Regions from separate parts of the Homo sapiens genome. Here all the other regions are linked to region 1. Evidence: fine-mapped expression QTL. A gene starts in region 1. Each other region holds a variant in brackets. All regions are shown on one strand. Distances are from middle to middle. Region 1 holds the start of PPCDC (phosphopantothenoylcysteine decarboxylase). Region 2 has its middle 73 kb from the start of PPCDC. Region 3 has its middle 31 kb from the start of PPCDC. Region 4 has its middle 11 kb from the start of RPP25.

What was found. PIP is the estimated chance that this variant, and not a neighbour inherited with it, causes the effect.
Region 2: its variant is the best candidate, but not a certain one, in a credible set for the expression of PPCDC in cerebral cortex (GTEx, PIP 0.84).
Region 3: its variant is the best candidate, but not a certain one, in a credible set for the expression of PPCDC in whole blood (INTERVAL, PIP 0.57).
Region 4: its variant is the best candidate, but not a certain one, in a credible set for the expression of PPCDC in substantia nigra (GTEx, PIP 0.80).

The regions. Positions count from the first base shown.
Region 1 is chr15:75,021,886-75,026,048 of GRCh38, reverse strand. PPCDC (phosphopantothenoylcysteine decarboxylase) reads right to left here and starts at 2,459. Exons shown (of 6, transcript NM_021823.5): 1 at 2,423-2,459.
Region 2 is chr15:75,094,675-75,098,837 of GRCh38, reverse strand. No RefSeq gene overlaps it. Among named protein-coding and RNA genes, the nearest start is that of PPCDC, 73 kb to the right of the region's middle. The variant T/G (reference allele first, on the strand shown) is at 2,451.
Region 3 is chr15:75,052,545-75,056,707 of GRCh38, reverse strand. No RefSeq gene overlaps it. Among named protein-coding and RNA genes, the nearest start is that of PPCDC, 31 kb to the right of the region's middle. The variant G/TG (reference allele first, on the strand shown) is at 2,438.
Region 4 is chr15:74,965,851-74,970,013 of GRCh38, reverse strand. No RefSeq gene overlaps it. Among named protein-coding and RNA genes, the nearest start is that of RPP25, 11 kb to the right of the region's middle. The variant G/C (reference allele first, on the strand shown) is at 1,939.

The DNA.
Region 1 (4,163 bases):
GCTTCCCCACAGCAGGCACTATAGTCCGAAATACAGTACTTAGCCTGCTTAGCAAAGCTGTGCTAAGGATCAAACCTACCTACCTTCCTAAAAAAGAGGGTGTGTGTGTGTATGTGTGTGCTTAATATACTTGAAGAATAGAAAGTGGATCATTTAACCAACATTTGGAGGCGAGGTCCAATCAGTTCAACCTGAGAATTCCAGGAAGGGTGATGGCTGGCAGGATTCCTTCATTTGCTTGCAAAGAGGATCAAATTCCAAACCAGTAAGTCTATTACTGTAACCAGAACCTGTTGGAGTCACCTATTTGCACAGGTAGCTGTAGTACCTGACTTCCCCGGGCTCTGCTGAATTCACAGGAACTCCTGAGCAGCAAAAAGAGTTGGCAAGTGGGCAGGTTATAGGGCTACACGCTTTGATTACTGAGCCTCAAGATCCCAGGGCACTAGCCAAGCAGGTAAGCCACAGCCAGAAAAATGGCAGCTTCTCTATCCTCCAGAAAGACAGGGACAGACAGAGCAAAGAGCCTCAGCTTGTGATGTTTAAGTCTCCTCTGATGAGTTTAATTCAGGGCAGAGTTTTAGGTTTCAGGGATACCTGCCAGTCCCTATATGGGCAAAGGTGGAGCTGGCACAGAACCAGACTAAAGACAGAGCAAGGAAAGCAAGGCCAGACAGGGTATACGTTCAAGCTCAATACAGGAAGGATGAGAACTGAGCCTAAGACAAAGCAGAACCAAACAAGGGAAGTGGGTGGTGGGTAGGCAGGGATCCAAGATCCATTATGAGCCTGAATCCTTTAGCCTAACATCAAAGCCCCTCACTACCGGCTGCCCAGGCTTCTGCTCCAGCTTACACCTGTAATCCCAGCAATTTAAGAGGGCAAGGTGGGAGGATTGAGCAAACCCAGGTACTCGAGACCAGCCTGGGTAACATAGCAAGACCCCATACAAAAAATTTAAAAGTTAGTGAGGTGTGGTGGCACATGCCTGTGGTCTCAACTACTTGGGAGGCTGAGGCAGGAGGATCGCTTGAGCCTAGAAGGCTGCAGTGAGCCATGTTTGTGCCACTGCACTCCAGCCTGGGTGACAGAGAGAGACCATTTCAAAATATAATAATAGTACCACAAAAAAAAAAAAGTGTGTAGCTATTTACATAGCATTTACACTGTATCAGGTTTTATAAGTAATCTAGAGATTATTTAAATTATATGGAGGGCGTGGTGGCACGTGCCTGCAGTCCCAGCTACCTGGGAGGCTGAGGTGGGAGGATTATCTGAGCCCAGGGAGTTCGAAGATGCAGTGAGCTATGATTGCACCACTACACTCCAGCCTGGGAGACAAGAGTGAGACCCTGACTCAAAAAAAAAAAAAGAAAAGAAAAAAGAGTATACAGGAGGGTGATGTGGTGGCTCACACCTGTAATCCCAGCATTTTGAGAGGCCAAGGAAGGAGGATAGCTTGAGCCAGGAGTTTGAGACCAGCCTGGGCAACATGGTGAGACCCTGTCTCTACAAAAATGAAATAAAATAAAAATTAGCCGGGTATGGTTGTTTATGCCTGTGGTTCCAGCTACACAGGAGGCTGAGGCAGGAGGATCCCTTGAGCCCAGGAGGTCGAGGCTGCAGTGAGCCATGTTCCTGCCACTGCACTCCAGCCTGGGTCACAGAATGAGACCTTGTCTCAAAAAAAAAAAGTATACAGCAATCCCCTGCGGATACTGAGGGATAAATGTATCTAACACACACACTCACACACGTGGGCTACTAGAAAGGCAGTGACTGCGAATTGCTACTTCCCAGCCACTGTGAGAGATGTGGAAACCCCTGCTCCAGGACAACCACCACTTCCCCAACTTGGCAACCTCTCCTGCTCACCATCTAGCACCTGCTTCCAAATACTTCAAGGACAGCAGGAAGTTCTTTTCTGACAAGATTTGGCCTAATTTTTAAATAGCACTCAGCACTTTTTGGCAGGCCTAGGGCTACTTCCAACATCCCATGGCTTTCCTTTTTTAATTTTACCAACTTTTTAAATACACTTTGTACTTTGGGCAGCCCGGGTAAGCGTTCAGTGTGAGGAGCTGACACGGCCATCATTTAAACTAGATTAAACGACACTGGACAAATAATCGCAGAGCAGCACAAAGTCGGGCTGGACGGGTACAGATGCAAACCCTCCACTCAGGGCTCGGGGGTCCCTCCTGCTCCAGGCGGCCCCACCCGTACAGCCGGGAAAGTGAGGTCGCACAGATGGACGGCCGCCTACCCACGCACAGTCGCAAACAGAGCTTCATGGGCACACAGGGGAAAATAAGGACACACACAGACAGCCGTGGACCCACGCTCGCGGACACAGCTCCCCGAACCTCCCCTCCCGCGCCGCCGCGAGAACCCAGCTTCCCAGCCCCCTTCCACTGCTCACCCGCGCCAGGCGCGTCTCGGGGCCGCTCCCAAATATCGCGGTATCTCTGCCGCTCTCCCGCGGAATCTGACTGGCACGCCTCACGAGAGCACCGGGCTGGCTGTATGTCGCGCAGCCTTCTGGGAGCTGTAGTCCACTTCTCTGCCTTCCGGGAGTTGTAGTCCACTGGGGAAATCCTGGAGCAAACCCTGGCCCTGTTCTTTGTATTGCTGGGACTCTCGATAGGGGCTGGCATAACTGTCCGACCTCCTTTCCTCACTCCTATCAGCCCCACACACACTGCTTGTTGCTTGGGGCCTTTTTTTTTTTTTTTTTTTTTTTGCTGTTGTCCCAGGTTTATTGAAAATATTACAGTATCTCAAAAAGATTCAAACAGCTTCCACGTGGCGTTTTGAAATTCATCCCCACTGTTGGCTGAGTGACCTGCAGGTTGGACAGACTGCCAAAGTCCAAAAACATCAGCATTTCCTTAATGTCAGGATATGTTAATACTTCAATGATTTCCTGATCCAGGGCTGAGACCTCAGGAACATGATTATCTCTCCTTTCTCTCTTCTCCTCCTGCAACTTGATGCAGATACCTCTCACTGAGCGCTTCAAATCAGCTTCATCACATGCATGTTGTAGCCTGCTATCTTGTTGGGGAGCTGTTTTTTTTTTTGTTTTTTTTTTTTTTTTTGAGACAGGGTCTGGCTCTGTCACCCAGACTGGAGTGCGCAGTGGTGCTATCTCCACTCACTGCAACCTCCACCTTTTGGGCTTAAGCCATCCTCCTATCTCAGCCTATGGAGTAGCCAGGACTACAGGAGTGCACCATCATGCCAGACTAATGTTTGTATTTTTTGTAGAGACGGGTTCTCACTCTATTGCCCAGGCTGGTCTCAAACTCCTAGGCTCAAACAATCCGCCCACCTTGGCCTCCCAAAGTGCTGGGACTACAGGAGTGAGCCACCACGCTCGGCCCTGGGGAGCATTTTGCTGGAAATAATGGTGATCTCCTTGCACATGTGTTGTTTGTGTGGAAGTTGCTGCCCGGGTGTGTGTATTACTTTTTTATGACGAAGTATAGAAAAGGGCTATCTTCATGGTATTAGTGTGAATGGGGCCCATGTTGGCAGGTCCTTAGTAAAAGAGGGCTCGTGGCACTTAATATTTACCAAGCCTCTTCTATTTTAGGTGCACAGGATACAGAGATAAATCAGATGCGTCCCTGTTCTTGAGACAAACAGGGACACAGAAAATGACAGGGTAAGATCCTCCATGAGGAAGCAACACCTCTAGGCAGGAAAGCCTTCTTGAAGGAGTGACTTGAAATGAATCTTGAAGGACAGCCAGGAGGTTAGATAGAGGATCCCAATAGCGATCCAGGTGGAAGGCATCAAATGGGCAAAGGGAAGGCGGCAGAAGAACACACACTGGCATGCTTCCCTGCCCCCTTCATTTTCTAGCCTTCACAGGCCCCAGGAACCTCTGTATTCATTGAGGTGGCTGAACCAGCTGCGGGTCCCCTGCCCTGAGCTGAGGTGGGGCCTCTGCTCTACCCCCGCCCTTAGCCGCAGTGGACCATCTGGGCCAAACCATCCCTTACGCAGGGATCCAGCCGTGTCTTTTTTTTTTGAGATGGAGTCTTGCTGTGTCGCCCAGGCTGGAGTGCAGTGGTGCGATCTCGGCTCACTGCAAGCTCCGCCTCCTGTGTTCACGCCATTCTCCCGCCTCAGCCTCCCGAGTAGCTGGGACTACA
Region 2 (4,163 bases), 73 kb before region 1:
ATGTCTAAACCCAGAGATGCCCAACTACACTTCCTGTATCCTAGGCAGGCTCTCAGCTGCTAGGGACTCAGCCTGAATCTGGGCTACACAAATACTCCAACCTTGACTGTGAGCTGTAGTCCAACCAGGATTCCCATCCCAGGGCTGTGGCCTTACAGTGGGAATTGACAATTGTCGCTGGACAATCTGATTTTGTTGGCCTGAACCACCATTCCCATGGACAGTGACCACGTGAGCTCCTAACTGGTAGCTCTGCCTCTTGCCCTGTCCTAGTGGGTGGACAGGTCTTTGCCACCCACCAGTTGGGCAGGCTGGGTAGGGCAGGGCCTGCAGCTCCTGAGAGGGCTATAGTTCGTGGCTGATTCACCTTAGCCATTATCACTCAATTTCTGTAACCTCTTTCCCCTGTGTCACAGAGAAAGCGGTGGGACAGGGCAGACCATGCTCTCTGTGGCCCTGGGTTCTGGCTCCTGCCTGGATTGCTAACTCTGATGTCTGGTATTCTGCTCTTGCAGACACTATTCTCTCCCTCCAGTTCCAGCCGCTCTTGCCCCGCGAGTTGGATCCCTCCCTCTGAAACAGGAGGCGAGACATCTTTCATGGTTCCCCATCTCTGGCGTCCCTCCCTTGCTATTCTGCCTGCCTTCACAGCCCTGCCACACGGCTGGACAGGCCTCAGCCACAGCTCCTGCCTCACTGGCTAATTCCAAGCTCTGCTCACCTGGGTGGGTCCTGACCCTGGGCTTGTTTGGGTGCAGCTGCCACTTGTATTCACTTTGCCCACAAGGTCCTCCCAAGACATATTACCCATCCTGTGGGAGTCTAATGCTTTCTGTCGGATTTTATCAGCTGTGGGTAGGACATGGCATGCCATGATTACAATGAATGATATTAATTGGTTTCATCCTTGTTCGGATGCTGTGGGTTGAAGAATACAGTCTCTGCAGACAGGCCTGGGCTCCCGTCCCACCTCAGCCACATATTACTCTGTGATTCTGGGCAAGCGACTTAACCTCTTTGAGCCTGAGCTTCCTTGTATGTAAAGTGGGTTAGTATCTGTCCCCTAGGAGTGTGGTGAGGGATAAATAAGATGATGTGTGTGAAGTGCTTGGCACAGCACCTGGCACATGGATAGTGCTTAATACTACAGACGATGGATATTGCTATGTCTGAGGAGCTCAGCTAACTGTGTTACAAATATTCTAAACACAGCATATTTCTACTCTGTTGTGGTTAGGTTTTTCTGTTTTTAAAACATTCCGTAATATATAATAATAATAAAATTAATACCTGTATACCGGCTGGGCACAGTGGCTCATGCCTGTAATCCCAGCACTTTGGGAGGCAGAGGCAGGTGAATCACCTGAGGTCAGAAATTTGAGACAAGCCTGGCCAACATGGTGCAATCCCGTCTCTACTAAATATACAAAAAAATTAGCTGGGCGTGGTGGTGCACGCCTGTAATCCCAGCTACTTAGGAAGCTCAGGGAGGAGGATCGCTTCAACCTGGGAGGCAGAGGTTGCAGTGAGCCGAGATTGTGCCACTGCACTCCAGCTTGGGCAACAAAGCGAGGCTCTGTCTCAAAGAAAGAAAGAAAGAAAGAAAGAAAGAAAGAAAGAAAGAAAGAAAGAAAGAAACATCTGTATACCTACTGCTCAACTACAAAATAAAACATTCACAGTTCTTTTGAAGCCTCCTGCGTCTCCTGCCCAATCACATCCCCTCTCTCCACTCCAAGGTCACTGCCATCCTGAGAATATGGTGAAAGTGGAGGCCATGAAAGAGCAGTAAGGTGACACCCCCACCCCGCACAGCCAGTGCTGGTCTAGTAGAATCTAGGACTCCCACACCCTCCAAAGTAAGGCACAGTGCCCCCTTCTCTAGAGTCCATGGGTGCTGAGTGGGGAACCTGGACTTCCGCCTCCACCTCACAGCAACGCGGCAGCACCTCCCCTCCTGTGCTGGAGTAGCAGCGTGGGAAGCAAGGTTTCAGTAAGACCCAGAGTCTCGTAATACCTAACATGTCTGGGTTTCAGTAGAAAATCACCAGTCAAGGACGGGAGCGGTGGCTCATGCCTGTAATCACAGCAATTTTTTTTTTTTTTTTTTGAGACGGAGTCTTGCTCTGTCGCCCAGGCTGGAGTGCAGTGGCGCCATCTCGGCTCACTGCCAGCTCCGCCTCCCGGGTTCACCCCATTCTCCTGCCTCAGCCTCCCGAGTAGCTGGGACCACAGGCGCCCGCCACCACGCCCGGCTAATTTTTTGTATTTTTAGTAGAGACGGGGTTTCACTGTGTTAGCCAGGATGGTCCCCATCTCCTGACCTCGTGAGCCACCTGCCTCGGCCTCCCAAAGTGCTGGAATTGGCCGGGCGCGGTGGCTCACGCCTGTAATCCCAGCACTTTGGGAGGCCGAGGCGGGCGAATCACGAGGTCGGGAGATCGAGAACA[T/G]CCTGGCTAACACAGTGAAACCCCGTCTCTACTAAAAATACAAAAAATTAGCCGGGCGTGGTGGCGGACACCTGTAGTCCCAGCTACTTGGGAGGCTGAGGCAGGAGAATGGCATGAAGCCGGGAGGCAGAGCTTGCAGTGAGCCTAGATCGTGCCACTGCACTCCAGCCTGGGCGATAGAGTGAGACTCCGTCTCAACAAAAACAATAAAAAAGTATTCTTACAGGCATTGGCACAGAGGGACAGAGGGAGGAAGAGAGAGAGAGAGAGAACCAAATAGAAATTTTATTATTTTTGTTGACCAAAAAAAAATTATATATACTTATGGTATACAAATGATGTTTTGATATATGTAGACATTGTGAAATGGCTAAATCAAGCTAGTTAACATATGCAGCACCAAATGGAAATGCTCAAACTGAAAAAGACAATGACTAAAATTTTAAAGCTCAGTGGATGTGCTCAACAGAAGAACGGGAGGACAGAAGAAAGAATCCGTGAACTGAAACACAGAATAGAAATGACCTGATTGGAACCACAGGGAAAATAGACTGAAACTGAACCAGAGAGAAAATAGACTGCAGGAGGGGAAAAAAAACAGTTTCAGGGACCTGTGGGACTACAAGAAAGATGTAATATGTCACTGGCATCTCAAAAGGTGAGAAGAGCACATGAGACGGGCTGTATGGTGGTGGCCGTCTGGAAAATATCATCAGCTACATCCATGTTAATGTATGGAGCTATAGTTTTCTGTTCCACTATAATATAGTATTCTATTGTGTGACTGAACCACAATTCATTTATTCACTCTACTGTAATGGGTACTTGGGCTATTTTGTTTTTGATCTAATAAACAGTGCTCTGTGACTATTCCATCCATATCTCCAGGAGTAGAACTGCTGGGTCTCAGGGTGTGTGAATGTTCACTTTTACCAAATAATGTAAAACTTTTCTTCAAAGTGAGTGTACTCACCTCTAGTCCCACTGCAGTTTAATAGTTACATTTCACCAGCATTTTGTCAGTCTTCTAATTTTTTTCCAAACTAGTGGGCATGAAATGAAAATTTGTGGTTTTATTTACATTTCCCCTTTTTACTAATGAAGGTGAGTATATTTTCATATATTTAATGGGCCATTTGTGTTTTCTGTGAAATACCTGTTTATGGTTTGTTTTGTTTTGGTTTGGTTTGGTTTTTTGAGACAGTGTCTCACTCCGTCGCCCAGGCTGGAGTGCAGTGGTGTGATCTCAGCTCATTGCAACCTCCACCTCCTGGGTTCAAGTGATTCTCCTACCTCAGCCTCCTGAGTAGCTATGATTACAGAGGACTGCCACCACGCCCGGCTAACTTTTGTATTTTTAGTAGAGATGGGGTTTCACCATGTTGGCCAGGCTGGTCTTGAACTCTTGACCTCAAGTGATCTGCCCACCTCAGCCTCCCAAAGTGCTGGAATTAACAGGCATGAGCCGCCACACCCAGCACCTGTTCATATTTTTAAACATTTTTCTATTGAATTTTTTGTCCTCCTAATTGATTTATAGGATCTAGGCACTAATTTTTTTTTTTTTTTTTTTTTTTGGTGAAATGTGTGCAAAGTTTTGTTATGATTTGATGGAAACAGTATTAAATCAATCTGGGGAGAAATAACAGTTTTACAGCATTGAGTCTTTCCACAAACATGTTGTTGCTCACCAATTGGTTTTCTTATTGCCTT
Region 3 (4,163 bases), 31 kb before region 1:
ATAAGCAAAGCAAAATTATTTTTCATGGGTGGGGCTGAAGATTGCTATAAATCTTGCACCAACACACACATACAGTGTCATTTAGTCTCCCTCCCTCCACTGGCCACAAGGACAGTGGGTTGTTTTTTGTTTGTTTGTTTGTTGGATATTGTGTTTTGTTTTGTTTTTAGTACACACCACCTTTGGAAAAGACCGTGGTTTTTACAGTTTTTAATGGTGTTGATTTTTCTTCACATTGTTACTTTTGTCACCCCTTTTCCAGAATCAGGGGTGTGGTCAAGGCCTTCAGCACAACCTAGATTCCCCTTCTCAGCATCCTGGCTTCCTCCTAGACTCCAGCTTCTCAATCCAGACCCAATCTGTCCTGCACATACCGCCCCGCTGATCTTGACCGCACGCCACACTCACCATGTGCCTCCCCTACTGAACAGCTCCCAACCTCCCCAGCACGTGGAGCCGGAGTTCCTCCCTGGGTGTCCTACATCAAGCACATGGCAGCATGTCTTCACCCTTTGTATCCTTGGTCCTCCTGTAAGCCCCAGCCCAAGTTCTGTTCCGTCCAGGGGACCCATCCTGACTGCTCAATTCTGAAGTAGAGTCCATGCCACACAGTCTCACTTTCATTGTTTGCTGTTATTTGATCACTGTGAATCTTTCTCCCATAAGAACATAAGTTCCTTGAGATCAGGGATCTCAAAGGTTTATTAAAAGCACACAAGGATACTCAAAATTCATTTTCCTCTGTTAGCTTGTGACAAGAAAAGCAGACCCATTTCTACTCCAAAGGCCTTGATGAATATCTTCAGGCCAGGCACCGTGGCTCATGCCTGTAATTACAGCACTTTGGGAGGCCAAGGCAGGAGCATCACTTGAGTCCAGGAGTTCATGACCAACCTGGGCAACATGGTAAAACCCCATCTCTGCAAAAAATAAAAAATTAGCCAGGCATGGTGTCATGTGCCTGTAGTCTCAGCTACTGGGGAGGCTAAGGTGGGAGGATCAACTGAGCCCTGGAGTTCAAGGCTACAGTGAGCTGTGATTGTGCTGCTGCACTGCAGTCAGCCCAGGTAACGGAGTGAAACCCAGTCTCAAAAACAAAAAGAAAATTTCCAGATGCCTCTGCCAAGTCTGTGTGTTTGTTTGCAGTAACTCCCTGCCATCATTTTTAAGAACTTCCAGATAAAGAACAGAAAGAGGCCAGGCTCACACCTGTAATCCCAGCACTTTGGGAGGCTGAGGCAGGTGGATCACTTAAGGCCAGGAGTTCAAGACTAGCCTGGCCAACATGGTGAAACCCCGTATCTACCAAAAATACAAAAATTAGCCGGGCCATGGTGGCGGGTGCCTGTAGTCCCAGTTACTCGGGAGTCTAAGATGGGAGGATCACTTGAGCCCCAGAAAGTCAAGTCTGCAGTGAGCTGTGATTGTGCCACTACACTCCAGCCTGGATGACAGAGTGAGGCCCTGTCTTAAAAAACAAACAAAAAGAGCAGAAAAATCTTTTTATATTTTTATTTATTATTATTAAATTTTTTAGAGACAGAGTCTCACTCCTCACCCAGGCCGGAGTGCACTGGCATGACCATAGCTCACTGCAGCCTTGGACTCCTGGGCTCAAGCAATCCTCCCACCTCAGCCTCCTAAGTAGCTGGGAATACAGGCGTGTGCCACCATGTCCAGTTAGTTGTGTTTCTTTTGGTAGAGATGGAGTCTCACTGTGTTGCCTAGGCCTGTCTCAAACTTCTGGTCTTAAACTAATCCCTCTGCCTTGGCCTCCCAAAGTGTTGGGATTACAGGTGTGAGCCACTGTGCCTGACCACAAGGAACTCTTTTTAAAATGTATTTATTGATTTTGTGGTAGATAGTATATTCATCTGGCCCAACAATTAAAAATGAAGTCACCTCCTATCTTTTTTTTTTTTTTTTTTGAGACGGAGTCCTGGCCTGCCTCCTATCTTTGTTTCTCAACCACTCAGTTAGTTCCCCTGCCAAGAGAAAAACAATAGACAATGTTTTTCTCTGTTTATCTTTTTAAAGGCATTTGATGCACACACAAGCCAATAAGAATATATCCTCCTTTTCTTTCCCCACCCCCATTTTTTCTGCACAAGCATGCATGTGACATTCTTCTGCACCTTGCTTTTTCTGTTTAACAATGTACCTCAGAAGTCTTCCCAAATCAGCTTCCTCAACACTTTGTTTTATGGTTGTGTAGAGTTCCAGTGTATGAAGGAACACACTAATTTATTTATCCAATCTCCTGGCTGTTAGATAGTGAGGGTGTTTCCAGTCTTTTAGCACCATATGCGAGGCTGCAATAAATCTCCTGTTCAGACATAATGTCATACAACTGAGTGTATCTGTGGGACAAATCCCTAGAAGCAGAATTGCTAGGTCAAAGGGTAAGGTGCATATGTAATTTTTTTTTTTTTTTTTT[G/TG]AGACAGAGTCTTTCTCTGTCACCTAGGTTGAAGTGCAGTGGTGCAATCTTGGCTCACTGCAACCTCCACCTCCCAGGTTGAAGCGATTCTCCTGCCTCAGCCTCCTGAGTAGCTGGGATTACAGGCATGCACCATCACACCTGACTTTGTATTTTTAGTAGAGACGGGGTTTCGCCATGTTGCCAGGCTGGTCTCAAACTCCTGAGCTCAGCCAATCTGCCCGCCTTGGCCTCCCAAAATGCTGGGATTACAGGCGTGAGCCACTGTGCCTGGCCTGGTCTTTCAGTACCATATACAAGCCTGCAATAAATCTGTTTAGACATAATGTCATAGAAGTGAGTGTATCTGTGGGACAAATCCCTAGAAGTAGAATTGCTGGGTCAAAGGGTAAGGTGCATACGTAGTTTTGATAGATACTCCGAGATTGTTCTCCAGTGAAGTTGCCATCAATTTACGCTCCTACCAGCAATGCATGAGGGCACCAATTCCCCACACCCCCACCAGTCTAACAGGCAAAAGTTTTAGGTCTAGCTTGATTTGCACCACTCTCCTCATGAATGTGGCTGAGTAGCTGTTTAAGGGCCCTTTGTGTGACTGGGTTTTTGGTTTTGTTTTTTTTTTTGTTTTTAATGTGAATTCTTCGTATCTTCTGCTCACTTTTTAATACATGTTCTTGGTCTTTTTTTCCTTTTTCTTTTTCTTTCTTTTTTTTTTTTTTTTTTTTTATTGAGATGGAATCTTGCTCAGTCACCCAGGCTGGAGTTCAGTGGCATGATCTCAGCTTACTGCAACCCCCGCCTCGCAGGTTCAAGCAATTCTCCTGCCTGAGCCACCCAAGTAGCTGGGACTACAGGCATGCACCACCATGTCTGGCTAATTTTTTGTATTTTAGTAGAGACAGGGTTTCACCAGGTAGGCCAGGTGGGTCTCAACTCCTTGAGCTCAGGCAATCTACCCACCTCGGCCTCCCAAAGGGCTAGGATTACAGGTGTGAGCTATTGTGCCCGGCCCTTGGTCTTTTTATCATCAATGCATAGGAGTTCTTCATATATTAGGAGAATCAGCCCTTTGTTTATGAGCTGCAGATAATTTCCCCAGCATGTTGTCCTTTGACCTTGACTTTGGGTTGTTGCTCAGTGAACCTATTTTTCTATAGTCAAATTTATCAATCTTTGCTTTTGTGGTTGCTAAATTTTGTCTCTTGCACAGAAAGGAGCAGGAACCAATAGCCCCAACACACACACCACTTTTTTGATCAGTACAAGCTTGGAGTGACTTACTGGGTTCTGTAAGGAACAGGACAACTCCTGCTCTCCAAGAGAACCCAATGTTAGGAGGACACAAAGTAAACTAACAATTACAATTCTGTTGTAATAAATAGTGGTGGCCGGGCACGGTGGCTCACTCCTGTAATTCCAGCACTTTGGGAGGCCGAGGCAGGAAGATCATGAGGTCAGGAGTTCGAGACCAGCCTGGCCAACATGGTGAAACCCCGTCTCTATTAAAAATACAAAAAAAAAAAAAAAAAAAATCAGGCCAGGTGCGATGGCTCACGCCTGTAATCCCAGCACTTTGGGAGGCTGAGGCAGGTGAATCACGAGGTCAGGAGATTGAGACCATCCTGGCTAACACAGTGAAACTCCGTCTCTATTAAAAATACAAAAAAAAAATTAGCCGGGCGTGGTGGCGGGCGCCTGTAGTCCCAGCTACTCAGGAGGCTGAGGC
Region 4 (4,163 bases), 56 kb after region 1:
TTGGCCTCCCAAAGTGCTGGGATTACAAGTGTGAGTCACTGCACCCAGCCAATCACCTGGCCTTCTTCCCTTCAGGTTAGGAACTAGGCAGCTTTGGGATTCAGGCTGATGGGTGGAAACAATCCCAAAGTAGGATCACCTGAGGTCAAGAGGTCGAGACCAGCCTGGCCAACATGGTGAAACCTCGTCTCTACTAAAAATACAAAATTAGCCAGGCATGGTGGTGCACACCTATAGTCCCAGCTACTTGGGAGGCTGAGGCAGGAGAATCGCTTGAACCTGGGAGGCAGAGGTTTCAGTGAGCCAAGATCGCACCACCGCACTCCAGCCTGGGCAGCAAAGTGAGACTCTGTCTCAAAAAAAAAAAAAAAAAAAAAAAAAAAAAAAAAGCCCCTGCATTTCCAGGTGAATTCCCTGAAAGTTTCAAGTAGAAGTTGCAACCTTGGCCCAGAGCAGTGGCTCACGCCTGTAATCCCAACACTTTAAGAGACCGAGGCAGGAGTATTGCTTGAGCCCAGGAGTTCCAGACCAGCCTGGGCAACATAGTAAGACCCCATCCCTACAAAAAAAAAAAAAAAAAATCTAAAAATGAGGTGGGAGGATCACCTGAGCCTGAGAGGTTGAGTCTGCAATGAGCTGTGATAGTGCCACTGCACACCTGCCTGGGTGACAGCAGTGAGACCTTGTCTTAAAAAAAAAAAAAAAAAGTTGTGCTGGGCATGGTTACTCATGCCTGTAATCCCAACACTTTGGGAGGCTGAGGCGGGTGGATCACTTGAGGCCAGGAGTTTGTGACCAGACTGGTCAACATGGCAAAACCCCGTCTCTACAAACAAAACACAAAAATTAGTTGGGCATGGCCGGGCACGGTGGCTCACACCTGTAATCCCAGCACTTTGGGAGGCCGAGGCGGGCAAATCTCCTGAGGTCAGGAGTTCGAGACCAGCCTGGCCAACATGGTAAAACCCCTACTCTACTAAAAAAAAAAAAAATACAAAAAATACAAAAAATTAGCTGGTGTGGTGGTGGGCACTTGCAATCCCAGTTACTCGGGAGGCTGAGACAGGAGAATTGCTTGAACTCAGGAGGCAGAGTTTGCAGTGAGCCCTGATTGCTCCACTACACTCCAGCCTGGGCGTCACAGCAAGATTCTGTCTCAAAAAAATAAAATTTAAATTAAAAAAATAAAAGGAGGCTGGGTGTGGTGGCTCACGCCTGTAATCCCAGCACTTTGGGAGGCTGAGGCAGGTGGATCACAAGGTCAGGAGTTCAAGACTAGCCTGGCCAAGATGGTGAAACCCCGTCTCTACTAAAAAATATATATATACAAAAATTAGCCAGGCATGGTGGTGGGCGCCTGTAATCCTAGCTACTTGGGAGGCTGAGGCAGGGAATTGCTTGAACCCAGGAGATGGAAGTTGCAGTGAGCTGAGATCAGGTCACTGCACTCCAGGCTGGCGACAGAGAGATACTCTGTCTCAAAAAAAAAAAAAAAGGAAGTTGCAACCTTGGGCTAAACTGAGCTACAGATACGTTATTTAAAAGCATGAGCTAGGCCAGGCGCAGTGTCTCACGCCTGTAATCCCAGCACTTTGGGAGGCTGAGGCCAGCAGATCACAAGGTCAGGCGTTTGAGACCAGCCTGGCCAACATGATGAAACCCCATCTCTACTAAAAATACAAAAAAAAATTAGCCAGGCGTGGTGGCAGGCACCTGTAGTTCCAGCTACTCTGGAGGCTGAGGCAGGAGAATGGCGTGAACCCAGGAGGCGGAGCTTGCAGTGAGCCAAGACTCCACCACTGCACTCCAGCCTGGGCGACAGAGCGAGACTCCGTCTCAAAAAAAAAAAAAAAAAAAAAAAAAAAAAAAATTAGCCAGGCGTGGTGGCGGGCACCTGCAATCTCAGCTCCTTGGGAGGCTGAGGAAGAAGAATCGCTT[G/C]AACCTGGGAGGCGGAGGTTGCAGTGAGCCGAGATCGTGCCATTGCACTCCAACCTAGGCGACAGGGCGAGACTCCATCTCAAAAACAAAAAACAAAAACACATGAGTTAGTTCATGTGGTAGATTGTCTGCAGAGATGGCTGTCAACAGTTCCTCCCATTCCTGTATATACATGTCAGGCCTTTCACCAAGAGGTACAGTTTATTTCCTTATCCCTTGAATCTGGTCTAGACATGTATCTTGGTTTGACCAATGGAATGTAGAGGACATGATAATGTGTGACATCTAGGTCTAGGCCTTACAAAGCCTGACAGCTCCCATTTTCACTGTTTTGGGATCAAGCCACTCAAGAAAGAAGCTTAGGCTAGAGTCCATGAAAAGAGAGGCCCAGCCAACACCCCCAGCCTTCCAGCCACCCCAGCAGAGGCACTAGACTTATGAATGAAGCCATCTTGAGTGTTCTGACCTCTGTCAAGCTCCCAGCTGAATGAAGCCATGTGAGTGACCACAGCCAGTATTAAGTGGAGCAGAAGAACTAACTGCCCAGCTGAACCCAGCCAAAACGAAGTCATTAGAAATAATACATCATTGGCTGGACATGGTGCGTCATGCCTATAATCTCAGCCCTTTGGGAGGCATAGGTGAGCAGATCACTTGAGCCCAGGAGTTCAAGACCAGCCTGGGCAACATAGTGAGACCCCATCTCTTTTTTTTGTGTGAGATGGAGTCTTGCTCTGCTGCCCAGGCTACACTGATCTCAGCTCACTGGAACTTCCGCCTCCTGGGTTCAAGCAATTCTCCTGCCTCAGCCTCCCGAGTAGCTGGGATTACAGGTGCCCACCACCATGCCTGGCTAATTTTGTGTTTTTAGTAGAGACAGGGTCCACTATGTTGACCAGGCTGGTCTAGAACTCCTGACCTTAGGAGATCTACCCTCCTCGGCCTCCCAAAGTGCTGGGATTATAGGCGTGAGCCACTGCACCCAGCCCATCTCTATTTTTAAAAAATATATAATAGTAAAAAAACATAAATAATACATCATTGCTATTTTAGCCACTAATTAAGGGGATGTGTGATTTTTGTGTGTGTGTGTGTGTGATGGGAGTCTCGCTGTGTTGCCCAGGCTGGAGGGCAATGGCGCAATCTCCACTCACTGCAAGCTCCGCCTCCTGGGTTCACACCATTCTCCTGCCTCAGCCTCCTGAGTAGCTGGGACTACAGGCACCGGCCACCACCACGCCCGGCTAATTTTTTGTATTTTTAGTAGAGACGGGGTTTCACCGTGTTAGCCAGGATGGTCTCAATCTCCTGACCTCGTGATCCGCCCGCCTCAGCCTCCCAAAGTGCTGGGATTGCAGGCGTGAGCCACCGCGCCTGGCCTGGTGATTTGTGATTTTAAGGTGATTTGTTACTCAGCAATAGATAACTGAAACAGTCGACAACATTTAAAAACCTGAAACTGGCCCACATGGCATGTGCCTGCGAATCCCTTGAGCCCAGGGGTTCAGGTCTGCAGTGAGCTATGACTGCACCAGTGCACTCCAGCTCTGGTCAACAAAATGAGACCTTGTCTCTAAAAGAAATTTAAAAATAAAAAATAGGCTGGGCGCAGTGGCTCACTCCTGTAATCCCAGCACTTTGGGAGGCCGAGGTGGGCGGATCACAAGGTCAAGAGATGGAGACCATCCTGGTGAAACCGCATCTTTACTAAAAACACAAAAATCAGCAGGGCGTGGTGGCATAAGCCTGTAGTCCCAGCTACTCGGGAGGCTGAGGCAGGAGAATCGCCTGAACCCAGGAGGCGGAGAGGTTGCAGTGAGCCAAGGTCGTGCCACTGCCCTCCAGCCTGGGCAACAGAGTGAGACTCTGTCTAAAAACAATTAAACATAAAAAAATAAAAAATAAAAACCTGAAACTGTCACATAAAAACATGAGTTTGGGGACTTCTTTTTTGAAAACACTGGACCTGTGTAGCTCACTTGGACTTCAGGGCAGAATCTTTTTCTTTTCTTTTTTTTTTTTTTTTGAGACGGAATCTGGCTCTGTCGCCCAGGCTGGAGTACAGTGGCGTGATCTCGGCTCACTGCAAGCTCCGCCTCCCGGGTTCACGCCATTCTTCTGCCTCAGCCTCCTGAGCAACTGGGACTACAGGCGCCCGCCACCAGGCCCGGCTAATTTTTTGTGCTTTTAGTAGAGACGGGGTTTCACCATGTTAGCCAGGATGG